Regions from separate parts of the Homo sapiens genome. Here region 1 is linked to region 2. Evidence: fine-mapped QTL for protein levels in blood plasma. A gene starts in region 2. The other region holds a variant in brackets. All regions are shown on one strand. Distances are between the middles of the regions.

Region 1 (8,000 bases), 270 kb before region 2:
GTATCTAAAGTGTGTGAAGAAACTACTGGGATGAAGCCAGTGTATTCCGTGTCTAGGAGGTAATGCCGATGTCTTCCAGAAAAGCATTTTTCCTGGGTCATAGTTTTAGTGCCTGTTGCTTGCCATTGTCAGCCTTTGATTCTAGACACAAACCATTTTGCCTTTTATTTCAAGCATTTCATAGGACCTGTTTAAGAAACCAGAGCTAGAGATTAGGATTTGGATATAGGTAGTTCATCTGGAAGATGACTTCTGGATCTAGCAGTCAGGGAATGGGGAGGGTGGGAAGGAAAGGGAGAACAACTAATATGTGTGTGTTCTGAGCTGGTTATCACAGTGGCTAATGGGGCCCAATCCCTCTGAGGCTCCTTTGAGAAGCTGTGTAGAATATGCACCACCACTGTTGTGTAGAAAGATGAGAGGCTAGGATATTTATCTACCGCTCCCAGTACTCACTGGTTGAAGGGTGCCTCAGAGATGTTCACCCCCATGCACTTCTAGGCTGTACCTGCACATGAGCTGAGGGTCTTTGCCGAGGCAGGCACCTGAGTCTGCCCGGCAGGGTGCATAGTGGCAAATGGACACCATAGACAGTTGTGATGACATCAGGTGGATGTGGGGGATGTAGTGTGGGAACCACAGCATGCACTACAGGGCCTTTTATCTTTTCATTGATTTTTGATAAAAGGCACTTATGTTTGCATTCTTTTAAAAGATTCAGCCAGTAAACTCATTAAATAGATGCCCACTCTAAACAACTTATACATACTCATGTGTTAATTCTAATTTGAGAAGTAAGTGCAGAATGCCTCTCATGTGTTAGGAATTTAGCCAAAATTCCTCTGCATCTATGAAATGTATAGATGTGCAACAGACAGGTATGAAGCAAAACACATTTTTGTGTATGAATTCTCAGTGTTCTGATGTCCATGGCCATTTTGGAGATTTCTTTTCAAATTTCTCTTCTTTTTCTTATTTTTTTCTCCTTATATGATTAGCCTTCAATCATATTGTAAACTTAATCTAAAACTCTCATTCCTGGGTTATCAGGGAGGCTCTCAATCTTAAAGTATCTTTGTCAATACTTTGAAAGATCTCTTAAAAATAAATAATATGAAGCAAATGCATAAAAACTCATGATTCCAAATTCCAGGTTACATACCTGATGTTATGAACCAAAAACAGGCTTCTTTTTTCCTCTGGCAACAAACTCATAAGGCATGGGATGTTATAAACCTTCTAAACAAATCCATCATTCAAATTCATTCAACAAACATTATTAAACGCAAATTTTGT[A/G]CCAGGCTGTGTTCTAGGAATAGAGAAATGAACAAGTTGATAAAAGTTGGTCCTTGTCTAGTTTCCATTCTAGCAAAAGCAGGGATGTGGGGATCCTATGTAGAAAAATAAGCTGGGTCAGGTAGCGTGATGCCTTCAGCTTTGTTCTTTTTGCTTACGATTATCTTGGCTATGCAGGCTCATTTTTGGTTCCATATGAAATCTAAAGTAGTTTTTTTCCAATTCTGTGAAGAAAGTCAATGGTAGTTTGATGGGGATAGCATTGAATCTATAAATTACTTTGGGCAATATGGCCATTTTCATGATATTGATTCTTCCTATCCATGAGGATGTTTTTCCATTTGTTTGTGTCCTCTCTTATTTCCTTGAGCAGTGGTTTGTAGTTCTCCTTGAAGAGGTCCTTCACATCCTTTGTAAGTTGTATTCCTAGGTATTTTATTCTCTTTGTAGCAATTGTGAATGGGAGTTTGCTCGTGATTTGGCTCTCTGTCTGTTACTGGTGTATAGGAATGCTTGTGATTTTTGCACTTTGATTTCGTATCCTGAGACTTTGCTGAAGTTGCTTATCAGCTTAAGGAGATTTTGGGCTGAGACGATGGGGTTTTCTAAATATACAATCATGTCATCTGCAAACAGAGACAATTGAATTTCCTCTTTTCCTAATTGAATACCCTTTATTTCTTTCTCTTGCCTGACTGCCCTCGCCAGAGTTTTGAATAATATGTTGAAAAGGAATGGTGAGAGAGGGCATTCTTTTCTTATGCCGGTTTTCAAAGGGAATGCTTCTAGCTTTTGCCCATTCAGTATGATATTGGCTGTGGGTTTGTCAAAAATAGCTCTTATTATTTTGAGATACATTCCATGAATACCTAGTTAATTGAGAGTTTTTAGCATGAAAGGCTGTTGAATTTTGTCGAAGGCTTTTTCTGCATCTATTGAGATAATCATGTGGTTTTGTCACTGGTTCTGTTTCTGTGATGGATTACGTTTATTGATTTGTGTATGTTGAACCAGCCTTGCATTCCAGGGATGAAGCCGACTTGATCGGGGTGGATAAGCTTTTTGATGTGCTGCTGGATTAGGTTTGCCAGTATTTTATTGAGGATTTTTGCATCAGTGTTCATCAGGGATATTGGTCTAAAATTTTCTTTTTTTATTGTGTCTCTGACTTCATACTACAAGGCTACAGTAACAAAGACAGCATGGTACTGGTACCAAATAAGATATATAGACCAATGGAACAGAACAGAGGCCTCAGAAATAACACCACACATCCACAACCATTTGATCTTTGACAAACCTGACAAAAACAAGCAATGGGGAAAGGATTCCCTGTTTAATAAATGGTGTTGGGAAAACTGGCTAGCCATACGCAGAAAGCTGAAGCTGGATCCCTTCCTTTCATCTTATACAAAAATTAACTCAAGATGGATTAAAGACTTAAACGTAAGACCCAAAACCATAAAAACCCTAGAAGAAAACCTAGGCAATACCATTCAGGAAATAGGCATGAGCAAAGACTTCATGACTAAGACACCAAAAGCAATAGCAACAAAAGCCAAAATTGACAAATGGGATCTAATTAAACTAAAGAGCTTCTGCACAGCAAAAGAAACTACCAGCAGAGTGAACAGGCAACCTACAGAATGGGGGAATATTTTTGCAATCTGCCCATCTGACAAAGGGCTAATATCCAGAATCTACAAAGAACTTCAATAAATTTACAAGAAAAAAAACAACCCCATCAAAAAGTGGGCAAAGGATATAAACAGACACTTCTCAAAAGAAGACATTTATGCAGCCAACAGACACATGAAAAAATGCTCGTCATCACCGGTCATCAGAGAAATGCAAATCAAAACCACAATGAGATACCATTTCACACCAGTTAGAATGGCGATCATTAAAAAGTCAGGAAAAAACAGATGCTGGAGAGGATGTGGAGAAATAGGAACGCTTTTACACTGTTGGTGGGAGTGTAAATTAGTTCAACCATTGTGGAAGACAGTGTGGCAATTCCTCAAGGATCTAGAACTAGAAATACCATTTGACCCAGCAATCCCATCACTGGGTATATACCCAAAGGATTATAAATCATTCTACTATAAAGACACTTGCACATGTATGTTTATTGCAGCACTGTTCACAATAGCAAGGACTTGGAACCAACCCAAATGCCCATCAGTGATAGACTGGTTAAAGAAAATGTTGCATATATGCACCATGGAATACTACTCAGCCATAAAAAAGGATGAGTTCATGTTCTTTGCAGGGACATGGATGAAGCTGCAAACCATCATCCTCAGCAAACTAACACAAGAACAGAAAACCAAACACCACATGTTCTCACTTATAAGTGGGAGTTGAACAATGAGAACACACATACACAGGGAGGGGAACTTTACACACTGGGGCCTGTTGAGGGCTGTGGGGCTGGGGGAGGGATAACATTAGGAGAAATACCTAATATAGATGACGGGTTGGTGGGTGCAGCAAACCACCATGGCACATGTATACCTATGTAACAAACCTGCACGTTCTGCACATGTACCCCAGAACTTAAAGTATAATAATAATAATAATAAAAAGAAAAATAAGCAGGGTAAGAAGAAAGGAACTGCATCCTTGTTTGAGAACAACTGTTGCCCTCAATAGTACAAACAAGTGAATCTTCAGAAAATCCTGAGTTGCAAATATGTCTTTAGCCCTGGGAGCACAGGTTGGGGATAGCAGGAGTGTTTTTGTAATCAAATTCCACGGTCATATTGTTGTAAGAAATACTCATTTTCCTGTATGAATGGAGAAATTTACAAGAGTTTTAGGGCATGGATGGGATGTGCCTTGGTACTGAGGGCAGATGGGCAGCTCTCTCTATGTGGTCAGTGTTTACCAACCCCTCTCAGAACACTGAGGTGTACGAGCCCACATTATCTGTTACAAATGAGTACAGTGAAAAAGATGTGTATTTCGTTAGGCAAGCACCTCTCATACAGTAAAGCACTGAAAATATTCCTTTTTACTATTAGTTGAAGCACTGAAAACAAACACTATTTTAGGTCCTTCTACAAAGTTAGTAATTATTAAAACTAAATATTTAAACCACAACTGTTTTAATGCTGGTATATCTGAGGAGACTATTTCACATTCTAACTGTTCGTTTGCACAGAAATAAGAAAAGGAAATGCACTAGATTAGAAATTGAGAGATGTGTACTCTAGTTCTGGCTCTGACACTATTTAACGTTGACCTTCCCAAGCCATTTGGTCTTGATTTCCTTAGTAGAATGCCTGGAATAGATGAGACACAAAGTACTTTACAATTTTACAGCTTCGCTTTTACAATTAAGAGGCATATATAATTATGAACAATAACGTACACAACAAAAACATAATTTTGGCATTTGAATTGAAACAACAATAGAACACCAAATACAAATGTCAATCAGGTTCCTATATTCTCTGTAAAATATGCCTGTTACATAATAGCAAGAATAATAAACTCAACTTCAAAACTTGAAACAGAAAGAAATAAAAAACTTTGTCAGCTGAAACAAAAAAAAAAACTTAAAAAGAAAAAATAACTAATCTGAAACACATTTTGATTACTTAAACTTAGTATTCTTAGATTTATTGTTTCCTTTTAACTCCAGATGCATAGAAAGTCCTTATTACCTTCTCATTGTAAATAAGAAATAGGAAATTTATGGGTGTGGTGCTGATGTGATGACGTGTGTGTCTGCACATGGAACTCCGATACAGATGTTGTGCAGCAGAGCTGTTTTGTTCTTGTCTTTTTAAATGTCTTTCTTTCCCTTCCTTTCTTCCCTTCCACCTTCCTCTTTTCTTTATTTTACCCTGCACCCTCCTTCTCTCTTTCCGGCTTTTTTAAATTTTATGGCTGGGTATGTGCTGTTAAGTGCTGTGGCAGACAGCCCCTAAAGTAGCCTCCAATGATTCCTGTCTTCTCTCATTCACAGCCTTATGTATTTCCTTCCCTTGAGTAACTTGCTTCTAATCAGAAGAATATGGCAGCATGGAGTGGATGGCAGTTCTATGATTAGGTTACAAAAGATTGAGACTTCTTTTTAACTAGCAGACTCACCCTTTTGCTGGTTTTGATGAAGTACGTTGCTGTGTGGTGAGAACCATACAGCAGAGAACTAAGCATGGCCTCTGGCCAACACTCAGCAAGAAGTAGAGGCCCTCAGTATAAAAACCCTTGAGGAACTGGCTGGGCGCGGTGGCTCATGCCTGTAATCCCAGCACTTTGGGAGGCTGAGGTAGGTGGATCATGAGGTCACGAGATCGAGACCAGCCTGACCAACATGGTGAAATCCCATCTCTACTAAAAATAGAAAAATTAGCTGGGCATGGTGGCATGCACCTGTAATCCCAGCTACCTGGGAGGCTGAGGCAGGAGAATTGCTTGAACCTGGGAAGCGGAGTTTGCAGTGAGCCAAGATTGCGCCACTGCACTCCAGTCTGGTGATGGAGCAAGACTCCATCTCAAAAAAAAATATATAAAAATAAAAAAAACCTTTGAGGAACTGAATCCTGCCAACAACAATGTAAATAAGCATGGGAACCAATCTTTCCCTATCCAGCCTTCAGATGAGACCACAGCCCTGGCTGACACTTTGATTGCAGTCTTATAAGATAGCTTGAAGCACAGGACACAGCTGGTGGGTTACTTTGGAAAAAGTGTGAGAGGTATATTAACTTTACTAAATATTTGAATGCTATTAATACAGAGTAAATGAATTTAATATATCAGAACTTAAAAGTAGTGCTCAAGAATGACACAAGCCACTTTTCTTAGCAAATGGAATGTATCACAGTGAGTGTGAGAAAGTGGGTGACTCCTCTTTTGGAGGCAAGAAGAACTATATTGTGCCTGGCCGTTTAGTTTCTCCTTAATCACATCCTGTCACATCTAGTACCATTGTGCCGCTGTGGCTGAAGACACTCAGCATTCCTAAAGTCCAACTCCTTAGTGTCATCTTAAGGCTTTCTAAATCTGAGAGGAACTACCATAATCTTAAAATGAACACCTTTCTCACTATGTCTAAAAATCCTATTAGAATCTTACTTTTACTACGAAGACAACAAATGACTACTATAGACTCTTAGGTCTTCTCTGATTAGCCAGGAACAGAAAATCATTTCTGAACTAGTAATATTTCTTGCTTTCTTATGATTTTTAAAGATTAAATCTAAAAATAGTATAGTTCAACATCCATTTATAGCACCTCTGAAAGGAATGTTGCAATTAACAAGAGAGCCTAACTTTGCCCCTAAGTGAATTATCACTAAGAACAATGAGTTAAGTTGGAACACACATGTGGTGTTTGGTTTTCTGCTCTTGTGATCGTTTGCTGAGAATGATGGTTTCCAGCTTCATCCATGTCCCTGCAAAGGACGTGAACTCATCCTTTTTTATGGCTGCATAGTATTCCATGGTGTATATGTGCCACACTTTCTTTATCCAGTCTATCACTGATGGACATTTGGGTTGGTTCCAAGTCTTTGCTATTGTGAATAGTGCTGCAGTAAACGTACGTGTGCATATGTCTTTTTTTTTTTTTTTTTTTTTGAGACGGAGTCTTGCCCTTTTGCCCAGGCTGGACTGCAGTGGCGCTATCTCGGCTCACTGCAAGCTCCGCCTCCCGGGTTCATGCCATTCTCCTGCCTCAGCCTCCCGAGTAGCTGGGACTACAGGCGCCCGCCACTGCGCCTGCCTAATTTTTTGTATTTTTAGTAGAGATGGGGTTTCACCATGTTAGCCAGGATGGTCTCGATCTCCTGAACTTGTGATCTGCCTGCCTCAGCCTCCCAAAGTGCTGGGATTACAGGCATGAGCCACCACGCCCGGCCGCATGTGTATTTATAGTAGCATGATTTATAATCCTTTGGGTATATACCCAGTAATGGGATCACTGGGTCATATGGTATTTCTAGTTCTAGATCCTTGAGGAATTGCCACACTGTCTTCCACAATGGTTGAACTAATTTACACTCCCACCAACAGTGTAAAAGCGTTCCTATTTCTCCACATCCTCTCCAGCATCTGTTGTTTCCTGACTTTTTAACGATCGCCATTCTAACTGGTGTGAAATGGTATCTCATTGTGGTTTTGATTTGCATTTCTCTGATGACCAGTGATGATGAGCATTTTTTCATGTGTCTGTTGGCTGCATAAATGTCTTCTTTTGAGAAGTGTCTGTTTATATCCTTTGCCCACTTTTTGATGGTTTTTTTTTTTTCTTGTAAATTTATTGAAGTTCTTTGTAGATTCTGGATATTAGCCCTTTGTCAGATGGGCGGATTGCAAAAATTTTCTCCCATTCTGTAGGTTGCCTGTTCACTCTGCTGGTAGTTTCTTTTGCTGTGCAGAAGCTCTTTAGTTTAATTAGATCCCATTTGCCAATTTTGGCTTTTGTTGCCATTGTTTTTGGTGTTTTAGTCATGAAGTCTTTGCCCATGCCTATTTCCTGAATGGTATTGCCTAGGTTTTCTTCTAGGGTTTTTATGGTTTTAGGCCTAACATTTAAGTCTTTAATCCATCTTGAATTAATTTTTAATGGGTGCAGCAAACCAACATGGCACATGTATGCCTATGTAACAAATCTGCACGTTGTGCACATGCATGCCAGAACAAAGTATAATAAAAAAAAATAATAATAATAGAAAGACATTAAGCATTCA
Region 2 (15,239 bases):
AGAGCAGACGCCAGAGTGTGATGGTTCGTCTGTCGCCCGCAACTCCCTGCCGCCCTCACCAACTTCCAGACACACACACACACACACACACACACACACACACACACACACACACACTAGATTGGGTTACAACAACCCACCAGCAGAAAACAACTTCTTCGCAAGGAGGAGGGGAGCACAGCCAAGTCATCCGGAATAAAAAATTATCCGTGTAAATATATAAGACAGATCCTCCCGTTTTCATAAACAACTAGAGTCCCAGGGTTCACCCTCAGGCCCCCTGGCACAACAGGAGGAAAATAAAGCCAGACTCCCGGAGCCCCACTCCAGTACCTCCGAGCTTCGCCTCTGATCAGAGAGCGCGGGTTCGCGTCTGCGCTGGGGCCAATGGTGCCGGGGCCTCCGGCCCGCGTGGCCCCAGCCCGGGGTCCCCGCCGCCGCCCGGGCTCAGCAGCAGCCGCCGCCGCCACCGCCACTGTAGCAGCTGCTGCTGCCGCTGCCGCCGCCGCCGCCGCTCCCTAGCCCTCCTCCTCTTCCCATGGCTGCGCCCTGCTTGGCAGCTCGCGGGCTGTCAGGCTTGGGGAGGAGAGAGGGGGCGGGGTGAAACGGGAAGGGAGGATGGGAGGGCAGGGGTGGGAAAAGGCGGCCACCGTTCACCAGGGGTCACGCCGCGCCTGGCCCGCAGTCCCCCAGATCCAGGTTGCAGAAGCGAAGGCGAAGCGGACGTTCAAGGAGGCCAGTTCGAGAACTGCTGCGGAGAGGCCGAGTGCCGCCCGGGCCAAGCATTCCGAGTTGCTGGGATGAAGTCTTCCCGGCGAGGAGCTGGAGTTGGTGCGTGTCACTCTCAACTGAGCTGCGCGGCTCCTCCTAGAGGAAAATATTGGTAGTTGCAATACACTTCCTTCCTCTCCGCCTGCCCGTTCCAAATGAAAGCAGGACCTACAAGAGCGTTAAGTGCAGTCCACAGACTCAAAGAAACACTTACAAAAAGGTTAGCTATCTCCAGGAATGAGAGGAAGATCAGCGAGATACCTTGGAAAGCGTGTTTAGCCATCCAAATATTGCCTTTCCATCAACAATCAAGTTCCAAACTCCTGCTCACTGGGGCACAGTGAAAAGATAGTTAAAACTACGAAGGACTTTATTGTGGAGGTTAGAAGACGGAGACAGAGAGAATGAGTAATTTACCAAGGACACTCAGCATGTTAGCAGAGAGGTATCTGCTAGAGGACAGGGATGCAGGGAGAGCAGACACAGGCCCCAGCCTGAAGTTCCTGAGCCAGGAAAAGGGTTTTAACTCTGCCTCACGCTGGACATAGCTCATCTGTCAAATGCGAGCCCTGCCTACTTCATTCACAAGAAGTTGTAAAAGTGTTGCAGAAAGTTAAAGTTGTGCATAAGCATGTCATTTTTGTACAGCATCAAACCCCAAGTCACTATATGCTTTTCTGAGTAGAGAGTACAAAAATCTAGCTCCAGGTTGTCTCAGATCTGAAGGAGTAGCTAGTCATGCAATCTTTCCACTATTTACTGACGGTCAATTGTAATGTCACTTACTTATAAGCTTCTAACAGCTTTGGCTTACTAAAGACTTTTTTTTTTTAACAGAGCTCCCAGACACAAACCCAAGTTTATACCCAGAAAGAAATGTTTAAACAACTTAAAGGAACCAAGTTTCTTTTCTTTAGAATAAAATATCTATAGGGCTTTGAAGTAGTACACGGGAGCCAAGACTTGAGAAGGAACAGAGGACCAAAGACTCTGGGATAGCAGATATCACATAAGATACCCCTATTTTCAAAGGAATCAGATAAGTGAAAAACTGTTCCTTAGAATGCTTTCAGAAGCTCAGCTGTGGCTCAAATACCCCAGCTGTTCCAGACAGACACCTAGAATGAACGAAAAAGGAAAGATTCTGGAAGGGGCGTGTTTTATCATGGGGTGGGATGGTTATTGATCCTGAACTGCTCTTGTTCTATGGCATCTAAAAATAAGGAGGCATTTAGTTCCCCTAAGACTCTTCCCCAAACCATTGATTTCTGGGGCTTCATACTTTGCTGGAGCAATAGTGGTGCTTGGCTGTGTCTGGAGCTTTTAAAAGGGGAGGTACCCATATAGAGAAACTTGGGAAAGTAAAAGATTAGGGCACAGTCAAGAAAAACTCCTGCTGGGTGGTCCATACCTGCCAAGCTGGCTGACAGGGTAGTCCTGGCAGGAGTAGAGACCAGACAGGCCTCAAATGCTGACTCCACGCCTGTCTGAAATGACCTTCCAAGTTGGACCTTCTTCAGAGCCTGGCACTACCAACCTCTCTGTTTATATCCTCTCTGTGCCTTCTCATCCTTTGCCCTTCTTCCCTGAGCTAGAGAATCTTGATCTAGTTTAGGAGGTGCCAGACGGAGTCATAAAAGATATTCTAAATTCTATTGTTTATGCTCTGAGATGAGCTCAGGGCCATACTTAAAAAAATAAGAATTGACTTCTTTTTTTTTTTAAATCTGGGTTCAGCAATATCCTCCATTCTGTGTGCCATGAAACTAGACTACTCTGGCTGCTGCTCTGTCTTTGATTTTTAAAAAGTCATCATGCACAGAAAACATAGGAAAAGACACCTCAGTTAATACTATAGAACTAGATATAAACCTGCAACTGACATGAAGGGCAGTCTTTATTTTTAAGCCTCGTAAGTAAAGGTCCTTCAATCTCATATATGACCAGGTATTGGTCCATAGTAGTATGTGCCTCTTTATATATTCCAAATTGTGAGGGAAAATGTAGCAGGTATTGAGTTGATTAATTTGTTATAAGTTAAGGCATGCCAGAGCACATTTACCTTCTGAAGAATGAAACTGCATTTGCTCATGGTTTCCACTCTGCTTGGAAGATCCTACTTTGTCCACCCAGAGAAATCCTTCTTAATCTTAAAGTTCCAATCAATTGTTTACTTTCTCTCTGAAGGTCTTCCTGACTATTCCCCAGGGTGGAATTAATTAATTCTCCCTGTATCAGCACCTTTATAGGCCTTTATATCTTCTTTTATTAAATATTGCAGTTTTGTTGACATGTCTGCTTTTCTCATTAATTAAGAGATTTCTGAGGGAGAAACTATATATTCTTAATATCTGTACCTGCAATGTCTAGGTTAGTGCCCAGTATTTACAGAGTTTATAAAGCGTCCAATAAATAATCAAATTGAATGAAAAGTTGTATCTCTTGGATTTATATCTCTAACCCAGATCTCTCCACAGAGCTCCAGGCTAACAACTGGGTATCTCCATTTGGATGTCTAACAGACCTCTGAAACTTGACATGTCCACATCTGAACTCTGGTTCTTTCTCCTTAAACATACTCCAATCACAGTGGGTGACATTTCCATCTCAGTAGATGGCAACTACTTCCTGCCAGTTACCCAGGCCACAAACCTTTGAAATCATCCTTACTTCTTCTCTGCCAATCACATTCCACATTCAAAACTCTGTCTATTTTCTTGGAGAGGTCCAGAGACACCTGGTCTGAACCACCAGAATTTCTCAGATTACTGCAGTAGTCTCTCAACTCAACTGGTCTGCTTGCTTTGACAAACCCCACCCCTAATCCCCAACCAACACCAACAACAACCCAAAGTATAAATTCAGTTGCCATAGTCATTCCTTTTAAAATTAATATCATGTCATTCCTCAGCTCAAAACCCTCCAATGGTTCCCCATTCAAATCAGAATAAAATTCAAAATGGCCCATGAGACCCTACGTGAGCTATGTACCTTTGCCCCACACCTCATCTCCCATGAATTTCCCCATCACTGGGTCATCCATTCTGCTCCCAGCACACCGGCCTCCCTGCTGTTTCTTAAGCAGGCCAGGCAGACTCCTAACTTGAAGGCTTTTTGCTGGCTTTTCTCTCTGATTTAAACACACTTCCACAAATATTCATTTGCTTCCTCCTACAGTTCCTTGAAGTCTTTACTCAGATATTGGCTAACTTATCTTGTCCAACCTATTTTACCTTATTATGGCCTTACCTTATTATGGCCCACCCTTCCCCAGTCTTTTATACATCCCCAGTAGGGCTTAGCAAAAAATATAAACTGCCTTGAAGACAATAGAAACAATTAGAAAATAATTCTGATTATATATATTCAAGTGCAGATATCTAGGTCAGATCGCCATCTCCCCAAACCATAAAACACCACAGTATAAACTTCCTAAATCTACAGTTATCTGAGGTTAGAGCATGGCTTTAGTCACTCTGTTGTACTATAAAATGCCAAAGCTTCTTCTCAAAACAAAACAAAAGAGGCCAAAACACTTAAAGTAGCATTTTATAGCTGTTTTGTTTTATAGCATTTGTAGTTGAAGAACATAGGATTGTTAGTCAGGAGCCTTGGGATCCTGTGTGGGTCCTCTGTGATTTTGGGTAAATTAGTTACTAATCTCACAATGACTCCATTTCTTGGCCTATAGAAGGAAGGGGTTGCTCTCTGAGATCATTCAGCTGTAAAATAAAGTATTAGATTGATATTTGTAAATCAAATTATGATATCAAACATTTGTGATAAATTCTAAATTTATTTGAATAATATTTGACCAAATGTCCGGGTACCATGCCCTAGCAAAGTTGACACATTGAGATGGTTAATTTTATGTGTCAATTTTGCTAGACCATGGTACCCAGATATTTGGTCAAATATTATTTTAGATTTTTTTGGCAAAGGCATTTTTATGGTAAGATTAACATTTAAATCAATAGACTTTGAGTAAATCATATTGCTCTACATAATGTAGGTGGGCCTCAATCGATCAGTTGAAGGCATTAAGAGAAAAAAACTGACCTATCCCAAAGAAGAGAAAATTCTGTCAGCAGGCAGCCTTTGGATTCAAACTGCATATCAACTATTCCCTAAATCTGTAACCAATTTACCCTGTAGATTTTTGACTTTTCAGTTTTCACAATTATGTGAGCAAATTTCTCAAAATAAGTCTCTGTATATATATCTCATGAATATGACATATATATATATATATATATCTCATGAATATGACATATATATATATATATATCTCCCTGATTAATACAATATTTACTGGTAAAATTAATAAGATTCTAATAAAATATTATCCCTTTAATGAATTTTTTTTAAACTAACACTGAATTCCCATTCACCATGTTCTTTCATTCATACAAATGTTGGTGAGCCTACACTATGACAGACTTCGTTCTAAAAACTTAGCATGCATCAGGGAACAAAATTTATACCACATATCTACAAAGATGCTGCCCTCATGGGGCTTGCATTCTAGTTAGGAGAGACAATGAACAATAAACATAATAAGTAAATCACTGAAGTGCTGATTAAAGAAAACCATAGCAGGGTAAGAGGCTCAAGAATGTCAGGTAGCAGGTACAAGAGTGCTGAGAATTCCTTCCTTGCCCAGGACTCAGCATATCATGGAATTGAGCATGTGATGCTTGTGAGCACACTGTGAGAGCTCTTTGACTAGGGTACTCTCTTTATCTTAGTCCCCTAGTTCCATCCCACAACTGCCTTGGGTGAGGATGGCAAGGGAATCATGAAGAGAAAAAAATGACTTAGGGAAGTATTTATTGCTTTCCCCCTATATTGGAAGGTAACAGGGAAAATGTTATTTCATGATCTGGGTATTCTTAGCCAAAATTTATGAGGAGGTCCCAGAGCCAGGTGAAAGCTTAAAATTGCCATTTATTGGAAAACAACCTAAGATGGCCAAATAGGAACAGCTCTCATCAGCAGCTCCCAGCGTGACTGATGCAGAAGACGGGTGATTTCTGCATTTCCAACTGAGGTACCTGGTTCATCTCATTGGGACTGGTTGGACAGTGGGTGCAGCCCAGAGAGAATAAGCTGAAGCAGGGTGGGGCGTCGCTTCACCCGGGAAGAGCAAGGGGTTGGGGAATTTCCCTTTCTTAGCCAAGGGAAGCAGTGACAGTCTGTACCTGGAGGAATGGTACACTTCTGCCCAAATACTTCACTTTTCCCTCAGTTTTCACAACCAGCAGACGAGGAAGTTCCTTCCTGTGCCTGGCTCAGCAGGTCCCACACCCACAGAGCCTTGCTCACTGCTAGTGCAGCAGTCCAACATCAAACTACGAGGTGGTAGCCTGGCTGGAGGAGAGACGTCAGCCATTGCTGAGGCTTGAGTAGGTAAAGAAAGTGGCTGGGAAGCTTGAACTGGGTGGAGCCCACCGCAGCTCAACGAGGCCTGCTTGCCTCTGTAGACTCCAACTCTGGGGGCAGGGCATAGCTGAACAAAAGGCAGCAGAAACTTCTGCAGACTTAAATGGCCCTGTCTGACAGCTCTGAAGAGAGCAGTGGTTCTCCCAGCATGGTGTTTGAACTCTGAGAAAGGACAGACTGCCTCCTCAAGTGGGTCCCTGACCCCCGTGTAGCCTAACTGGGAGACACCTCCCAGTAGGGGCTGACAGACACCTCATACAGGCAGGTGCCCCTCTGGGATGAAGCTTCCAGAGGAAGGATCAGGCAGCAATATTTGCTGTTCTGCAGCCTCTGCTGGTGATACCCAGGCAAAGAGTTTCTGGAGTAGACCTCCAGCAAATTCCAACAGACCTGCAGCTGAGGGACCTGACTGGTAGAAGAAAAACTAACAAAAAGAAAGGAATAGCATCAACATCAACAAAAAGCACATCCACACCAAAACCCCATCTGTAGTCACCAACATCAAAGACCAAAGGTAGATAAAACCACAAAGATGGGGAGAAACCAGAGCAGAGAAGCTGAAAATTCTAAAAACCCGAGCGCCTCTTCTCCTCCAAAGGATTGCAGCTCCTTGCCAGCAACAGAACAAAGCTGGATGGAGAATGACTTTGATGAGTTGACAGAAGTAGGCTTCAGAAGGTCAGTAATAACAAACTTCTCCGAGCTAAAGGACGATGTTTGAACCCATCATGAGGAAACTAAAAACCTTGAAAACAGATGAGACGAATGGCTAACTAGAATAAACAGTGTAAAGAAGACCTTAAATGACCTCATGGAGCTGAAAAACATCGCATGAGAACTATATGATGCATGCATAAGTTTCAGTAGCCAATTTGATCAAGTGGAAGAAAAGGTTTCAGTGATTGAAGATCAAATTAATGAAATGAAGTGAGAAGAGAAGTTTAGAGAAAAAAGAGTAAAAAGAAATGAACAAAGCCTCCAAGAAATATGGGACTATGTGAAAAGACCAAACCTACGTCTTATTGGTGTACCTGAAACTGATGGGGAGAATGGAGCCAAATTGGAAAACACTCTTCAGGATATTATCCAGGAGAACTTCCCCAACCTAGCAAGGCAGGCCAACATTCAAATTCAGGAAATACAGAGAACACCACAAAGATAATCCTCAAGAAGAGCAACCCCAAGACACATAATCATCAGATTCACCAAGGTTGAAATGAAGGAAAAAATGTTAAGGGCAGCCAAAGAGAAAAGTAGGGTCACCCACAAAGGGAAGCCCATCAGACTAACAGTGGATCTCTTGGCAGAAAGAGATCTCTACAGATCCCTCTCTACAAGAGATCTTTACAGATCCCTCTCTACAAGAGATCTTTACAGATCCCTCTCTACAAGAGATCTTTACAGATCCCTCTCTACAAGCCAGAAGAGAGGGGGGCCAACATTCAACATTCTTAAGGAAAAGAATTTTCAAACCAGAATCTCATATCCAGCCAAACTAAGCTTCATAAATGAAGGAGAAATAAAATCCTTTACAGACAAGCAAAGGCTGAGAGATTTACCCACCACCAGGCCTGTCTTACAAGAGCTCCTGAAGGAAGCACTAAACATGGAAAGGAAAAACTGATACCAGCCACTGCAAAAACATGCCAAATTGTAAAGACCATCAACGTGAAGAATAAACTGCATCAAGTAACGGGCAAAATAACCAGCTAACATCATAATGATGGGATCAAGTTCACACATAACAATATTAACCTTAAATGTAAATGGGCTAGATGCCCTAATTAAAAGACATAGACTGGCAAATTGGATAAAGAGTCAAGACCCAACAGTGTGCTGCATTCAGGAGACCCATCTCACATGCAGAGGCTCACATAGACTCAAAATAAAGGGATGGAGGAAGATCTACCAAGCAAATGGAAAACAAAAAAAGGCAGGGGTTGCAATCCTAGTTTCTGATAAAACAGACATTAAACCAACAAAGATCAAAAGAGACAAAGAAGGCCATTACATAATGGTAAAGGGATCAATTCAACAAGAAGAGCTAACTATCCTAAATATATATGCACCCAATACAGGAGCACCCAGATTCATAAAGCAAGTCCCTAGAGACCTACGAAGAGACTTAGACTCCCACACAATAATAATGGCAGACTTTAACATCCCACGGTCAATATTAGACAGATCAACAAGATAGAAGGTTAACAAGAATGTCCAGGAATTGAACTCAGCTCTGTACCAAGCAGACCTAATAGGCATCTACAGAATTCTCCACCCCAAATCAACAGAATATACATTCTTCTCAGCACCACATCACACTTATTCCAAAATTAACTACATAGTTGGAAGTAAAGCACTTGTCAGCGAATGTAAAAGAACAAAAATAACAACAAACTGTTTCTCAGACCACAGAGCAATCAAATTAGAACTCAGGATTAAGAAACTCAGTCAAAACTGCACAACTACCTGGGAACGGAACAACCTGCCCCTGAATGACTACTGGGTAAATAATAAAATGAAGGCAGAAATAAAGATGTTCTTTGAAATCAATGAGAACAAAGACACAATGTACCAGAATCTCTAGGACACATTTAAAGCAGTGTGTAGAGGGAAATTTAAAGCACTGAATGCCCACAAGAGAAAGCAGGAAAGATCTAAAATCAATACCCTAACATCACAATTAAAAGAACTAGAGAAGCAAGAGCAAACAAATTCAAAAGCTAGCAGAAAGCAAGAAATAACTAAGATCACAGCAGAACTGAAGGAGACAGAGACACAAAAAACTCTTCAAAAAATCAATGACTCCAGGAGCTGGTTCTTTTGAAAAGATAACAAAATTGATAGACTGCTAGCAAGAATAATAAAGAAGAAAAGAGAGAAGAATCAAATAGACACAATAAAAAATGATAAAGGGGATATCACCACTGATCCCACAGAAATACAGACTAACATCAGAGAATACTATAAACTCCTCTATGCAAATACACTAGAAAATCTAGAAGAAATGCATAAATTCCTGTGCACATACACACTCCCAAGACTAAACCAGGAAGAAGCTGAATCCCTGAATAAACCAATAACAGGCTCTGAAATGGAGGCAATAATTAAGAGCCCAACAACCAAAAAAAGTCCAGGACCAGATAGATTCACAGCCGATTTCTACCAGAGGTACAAAGAGGAGCTGATACCATTCCTTCTGAAATTATTCCAATCAATAGAAAAAGAAGGAATCCTCCCTAACTCATTTTATGAGGCCAGCATCATCCTGATACCAAATCCTGGCAGAGACACAACAAAAAAAGACAATTTTAGACCATTCTCCCTGATGAACATCGATGCAACAATCCTCAATAAAATACTGGCAAACTGAATCCAGCAGCACATCAAAAAGCTTATTCACCAAGATCAAGTTGGCTTCATCCCTGGGATGCAAGGCTGGTTCAATATATGCAAATCAATAAACATAATCTAGCATATAAACAGAACCAACTACAAAAACCACATGATTATCTCAATAGATGCAGAAAAGGCCTTTGACAAAATTGAACAGCCCTTCATGCTAAAAACTCTCAATAAACTAGGTATTGATGGAAGGTATCTCAAAATAATAAGAGCTATTTGTGACAAGACCACAGCCAACATCATAAAGAATGGGCAAAAACTGGAAGCATTCCCTTTGAAAACTGGCACAAGACAAGGATGCCCTCTCTCACCACTCCTATTCAACATAGCGTTGGAAGTTCTGGCCAGGGCAATCAGGCAAGAGAAAGAAATAAAGGGTATTCAGTTAGGAAATGAGGAAGTCAAATTGTCCCCATTTGCAGATGACATGATTGTATATTTAGAAAACCCCATCATCTCAGCCCAAAATCTCCTTAAGCTGATAAGCAACTTCAGCAAAGCCTCAGGATATAAAATCAATGTGCAAAAATCACAAGCATTCCTACACAACAATAACAGACAAACAGAGAGCCAAATCATGAGTGAACTCCCATTCACAATTACTACAAAGAGAATAAAACACCTAGGAATCCAACTTACAAGGGATGTGAAGGACCTCTTCAAGGAGAACTACAAACCGCTGCTCAATGAAATAAAAGAGGACACAAACAAATGGAAGAACATTCCATGCCCATGGATAGGAAGAATCAATATCATGAAAATGGCCATACTGCCCAAGGTAATTTATAGATTTAATGCCATCCCCATCGAGCTACCAATGACTTTCTTCATAGAACTGGAAAAAACTACTTTAAAGTTCATATGGAACCAAAAAAGAGCCCTCATTGCCAAGACAATCCTAAGCAAAAAGAACAAAGCTGGAGCCATCACATTACCTGACTTCAAACTATACTACAAGGCTACAGTAACCAAAACAGCATGGTATTGGTACCAAAACAGGTGTATAGACCAATGGAACAGAGCAGAGCCCTCAGAAATAACACCACACTTCTACAACCATCTGATCTTTGACAAACCTGTGAAAAACAAGCAATGGGGAAAGGATTCCCTATTTAGTAAATGGTGCTGGGAAAACTGGCTAGCCATATATAGAAAGCTGAAACTGGATCCCTTTCTTACACCTTATACAAAAATTAAATCAAGATGGATTAAAGAGTTAAATGTTAGACCTAAAACCATAAAAACCCTACAAGAAAACCTAGGCAATACCATTCAGGACATAGGCATGGGCAAGGACTTCATGACTAAAACACCAAAAGCAATGTCAACAAAAGCCAAAATTAGCAAATGGGATCTAATTAAGCTAAACAGTTTTTGCACAGCAAAAGAAACTACCATCAGAGTTAGCTAGGCAACCTACATGAATGGGAGAAATATTTTGCAATCTACCCATCTGACAAAGGGCTAATATCCAGAATCTACAAAGAACTTAAACAAATTTACAAGAAAAAATGAAACAACCCCATCAAAAAGTGGGCAAAGTATAAGAACAGACACTTTTCAAAAGAAGACATTTATGCAGCCAACAGACACATGAAAAAATGCTCATCACCACTGGTTATCAGAGAAACACAAATCAAAACCACAGTGAGGTACCATCTCACGCCAGTTAGAATGGTGATCATTAAAAAGTCACGAAACAACAGATGCTGGAGAGGATGTAGAGAAATAGGAACACTGTTATACTGTTGGTGGGAGTGTAAACTAGTTCAACTGTTGTGGAAGACAGTGTGGTGATTCCTCAAGGATCTAGAACTAGAAATACCATTTGACCCAGCCATCCCATTACTGGGTATATACCCAAAGGATTATAAATCATGCTGCTATAAAGACACATGCACACGTATGTTTACTGCGGCACTGTTCACAGTAGCAAAGACTTGGAACCAGTCCAAATGTCCATCAGTGATAGACTGGATTAAGAAAATGTGGCACATCTACAACATGGAATACTATGCAGCCATAAAAATGGATGAATTCATGTCCTTTGAAGGAACATGGATGAAGCTGGAAACCATTCTGAGCAAACTATAGCAATGACAGAAAACCAAACACCACATATTCTCACTCATAGGTGGGAATTGAACAATGAGAACACTTGGACACAGGGTGGGGAACATCACACACTGGTGCCTGTCATGGGGTAGGGGCATGGGGGAGGGATAGCATTAGGAGAAATACCTAATGTAAATGATGAGTTAATGGGTGCAGCAAACCAACATGGTACATGTATACCTATGTAACAAACCTGCACGTTGTGCACATGTACCCTAGAACTTAAAGTATAATTAAAAAAGCAAAAACAAACGAACAAAAATTACCATTTATTTTATGAATTTCAAAAAATAGGTATTTCAATTCAGAGTTTATAAAAACTCAAAGGAATAAATAAAACTGATCTCCTTTATGCTCTTTAGTGGATTCACCCACAGGAAAGTTACAGGCCAGGGATATGCCAGATTATGTACAGCCACCTGGTAGAGAGGAACAAAATCAAACAGGTCTCAAAAGAGACTCATGAATAAACATTCCCCTTTAAATAATTTAAGTGTGGAGATTTTTAAAAATTGACATTATTTTCTTTACCTTCTCACCAAATGCAAAAGCCTGTTTAAAAAACCCATCTGATAGACAATCATCTATCAAAGATGATGAAACAATTAGAAACATTGAGATGATTTCTGCTTTCTGAATAATTGTACTGATGAGTAACCCACTAATTCCCTCACTGGGCAGCATGACTGCATTATTTGTTAAAAATATGTTACTAAGAATTTGCTATTCTATTATTTGTACCTGATTCTATCTCTCATAGGGAAAAAATTAGCAATTTAAATTTGTTTGTTTCATGAGACACACTTACATGTCATACTGCCAGTTACCTCTTCTCCAGACCAAACACACACAGGTGTTTTCACTACTTCTCATTGACATGAGAAGTCAATGAGACTTGCTGACCCTACACCATCCTGGGCTACCTCCTTGGTGTGTGCTCCAGTTTATCAAACTCCTTCATAAATTGCTGTTCCCGGTATCAAATTCAATTCCATTGTGGTCACCACAAGATAGAGGAAGACCATAAGCTTTCAGCTAGGTGCCATAGAGTAATGAAATGACAGAAGCCCTGGAGTCTGTTAGATGTGGTGGGATCCCAGTTCCAAACAACCTATGCTACTTATTCAGCCTACACTCCCAGGAAGTAAATTCAGGCACCTCAGTGTGATAAAGGGATGTCTATCCCTTCTTTCATTTTCCATTTCAATCCTTTCCTACTGCCTATCTTCACATACTGTAGGATTCTTTTCTTTACCTCTATCTTCTTAATTTTTAAAAGAAGTGAAAATATAAAAGCAAAAAAAAGGATATAAATGAGAAAGGAATCTGACCAGGTATGAGAAAGTTTCTCATAACCGCTTTCCTTCATAAAAGGCACACAGATCATTTCCAATTACTAAATGAACTCTCAATGTAACTTGCTAATCAGACTTGACTGAGGGCATCATGGATGCCCAAGAGAAATAACACTGAACCCTTTTGAGCTTGAAAAAAACCCAGCTCTGCCTACTCAATGTCTACCCAGTGAAGCCAGAAAAGGTCAAGTGAGGGTATGAACTACTGGAGAATTTCTGGCTGGAAAAACTCCTTAGGTAGGGTAAGGGCTATATTGAGGAACAAGATGACTAGCAAGGTAATAGCACTTTTCTCCCAGCCACTGGCCCTCTGGAGCACTTTCTGAACCAGGTGTAAGGCTGAGATGTCTAGCCACATAAAAAACAGTGATACCTCTATAAAAGAACTTAAAAGCTAAGTAAAATAGGTTTCAGCTGTTGTAGACAAAAATAAATCAGATTGTCCAAATTTTATTTGCTTCCTAAAATGTGTTTACCATATTTTTTAACACTGTGCAATATTCCAAGCACAAATCACATAAATTATGTAAGGATTTTTTCACAGTAGTCCTGTGAAAAAGGTGTGATTGTCCTTTCTTTTTTAGTAAGAAAGTGGCTTGGAGAAGAAAATCAACTAGACCAAGTCACACAATGAGATTGATATAGTCCAGTGAAACAAGAGCATTCTGTGGACAACTCCATACCTTTTCATGTAGCCATGCTACCATCTTGCTCAATTTGTGTTTTCAAGCCACCACCCTACAAGCATCTGTCTTTGGCAAAATCTTTAAAATTATCTTTCAATATCTAGGAACCAAACTAATGGTAGTGGTAGCAGGGAAGGACATAAGGAAAGTCTATTGCATTTTAGTTCCATCACATGTAGGCCCACTTCTAACATTTGTGGGAGCCACAGCCAGAGGACAAATGAAGCCCGCATAGTATAAGTCCATAAGGCTAAATATTAATATTTTAAAGTATTGTCAGTCTAATGAATTGTTGGCTACAATGTGTTCTATCCTCTTACCTTCAGAAATATACCTTCATAATGACCTGAAAGGACAGGTTTGAATTTAGATTTCTCAGACCTCTCAGAATTTTGCACCAGAAGTTAGTCATGCAGGGATATCTGGTCCTCAGTTTGATTCTTAGTCCCCAGTCGTTGCCACTTTCCCCACTCTTGGCTCCCACTATGCTCAGCAACGGTCTCCTATATATGTGTGTATAGAAGCATACATGTCCAAGCTCTAGCCAACCTCTCCCTCCCCCACCTTGGAACTCCAGGACACTTCAGCTAGGAACTCCAAAGTCTGAGATATCACAAAGAATGGTCTGAAGAGGAACCACAGCTCATGGCCAGGCATATCTCATTCATCCAAAGTTTCCTTGTCTGGTGAATGGGGACATTGCTGGAGGAAAGACAGCTCGGGAACTCTCTAGCATGGGCCAGTGAGCAGTATTTACAGTATGATCTCCTGGAGACCTCTGTACATTTCTTTAGTGGGAACAGGGCTGGAAGGGGGCAGATATTCGTCTAAGAGCAGCTTGGAAAAGAGGTTCAGGGTTGGTTTTCAATTGAGGAGCCCAGTATAGAATTCAGTGTATTAAGAACTTATCAAATCCTTGTTTAAAAAGTTGAATTTCATTTTTCGGGCTATCTGATGCTCATTATTGAAAATAAAGCTAAAAGAAAAGTAATACAATGTGAAATATGTAGGAAACATATATGCAGAAGACAGCAACAACTTGATAGCAAAATACTACTATCTATGGATATTTGGGTAGATTTCAATTTTTGGTTACTACAAATAGTTTTCCTATGGACATTCTGTTGTATGTCTTTTAGAGACTGTCCACATTTTTCTTGAGTATATATATATATCCAAACGATGTTCAAAAGTGGTTGTATGAATTTGTGCTTCTGCCAGCAGTGTATGAAAGATTTCATTTCTTACATTCTTACCAACACTTGGTATTTTTCATCTTTTTTTGTTTTAGCCATTCTGGTGCCTGTGGAGCATACTACATCATGGTTTAAACTGGCATTCCCCTGATTTCTTAGGAACTTGAATGCCTTTTCATGTTTACTGATTTTTTGGATCTTTTCTTTCAAAAATGTCTGTTTAGTTCTTTCTTATTTTATCTAACTTTATATATTTTGCACACATATAGCTA

The links. A credible set is the group of variants that fine-mapping cannot tell apart. PIP is the posterior inclusion probability: the model's chance that the variant is causal. Sun 2018 read protein levels with aptamers (SomaScan).
Region 1: its variant is the best candidate, but not a certain one, in a credible set for the plasma level of the GHR protein (Sun 2018, PIP 0.62).

The regions. Positions count from the first base shown.
Region 1 is chr5:42,680,824-42,688,823 of GRCh38, reverse strand. All of the region lies in intron 3 of GHR (growth hormone receptor), which reads right to left. Among named protein-coding and RNA genes, the nearest start is that of CCDC152, 72 kb to the left of the region's middle. The variant A/G (reference allele first, on the strand shown) is at 1,297.
Region 2 is chr5:42,409,050-42,424,288 of GRCh38, reverse strand. It overlaps GHR (growth hormone receptor), which reads right to left and starts at 850. Exons shown (of 10, transcript NM_000163.5): 1 at 334-850. RefSeq lists promoters at 1-157, 1-578, 776-876, 486-1,058, 482-1,567, cis regulatory regions at 681-721, 1,059-1,567 and an enhancer at 705-854.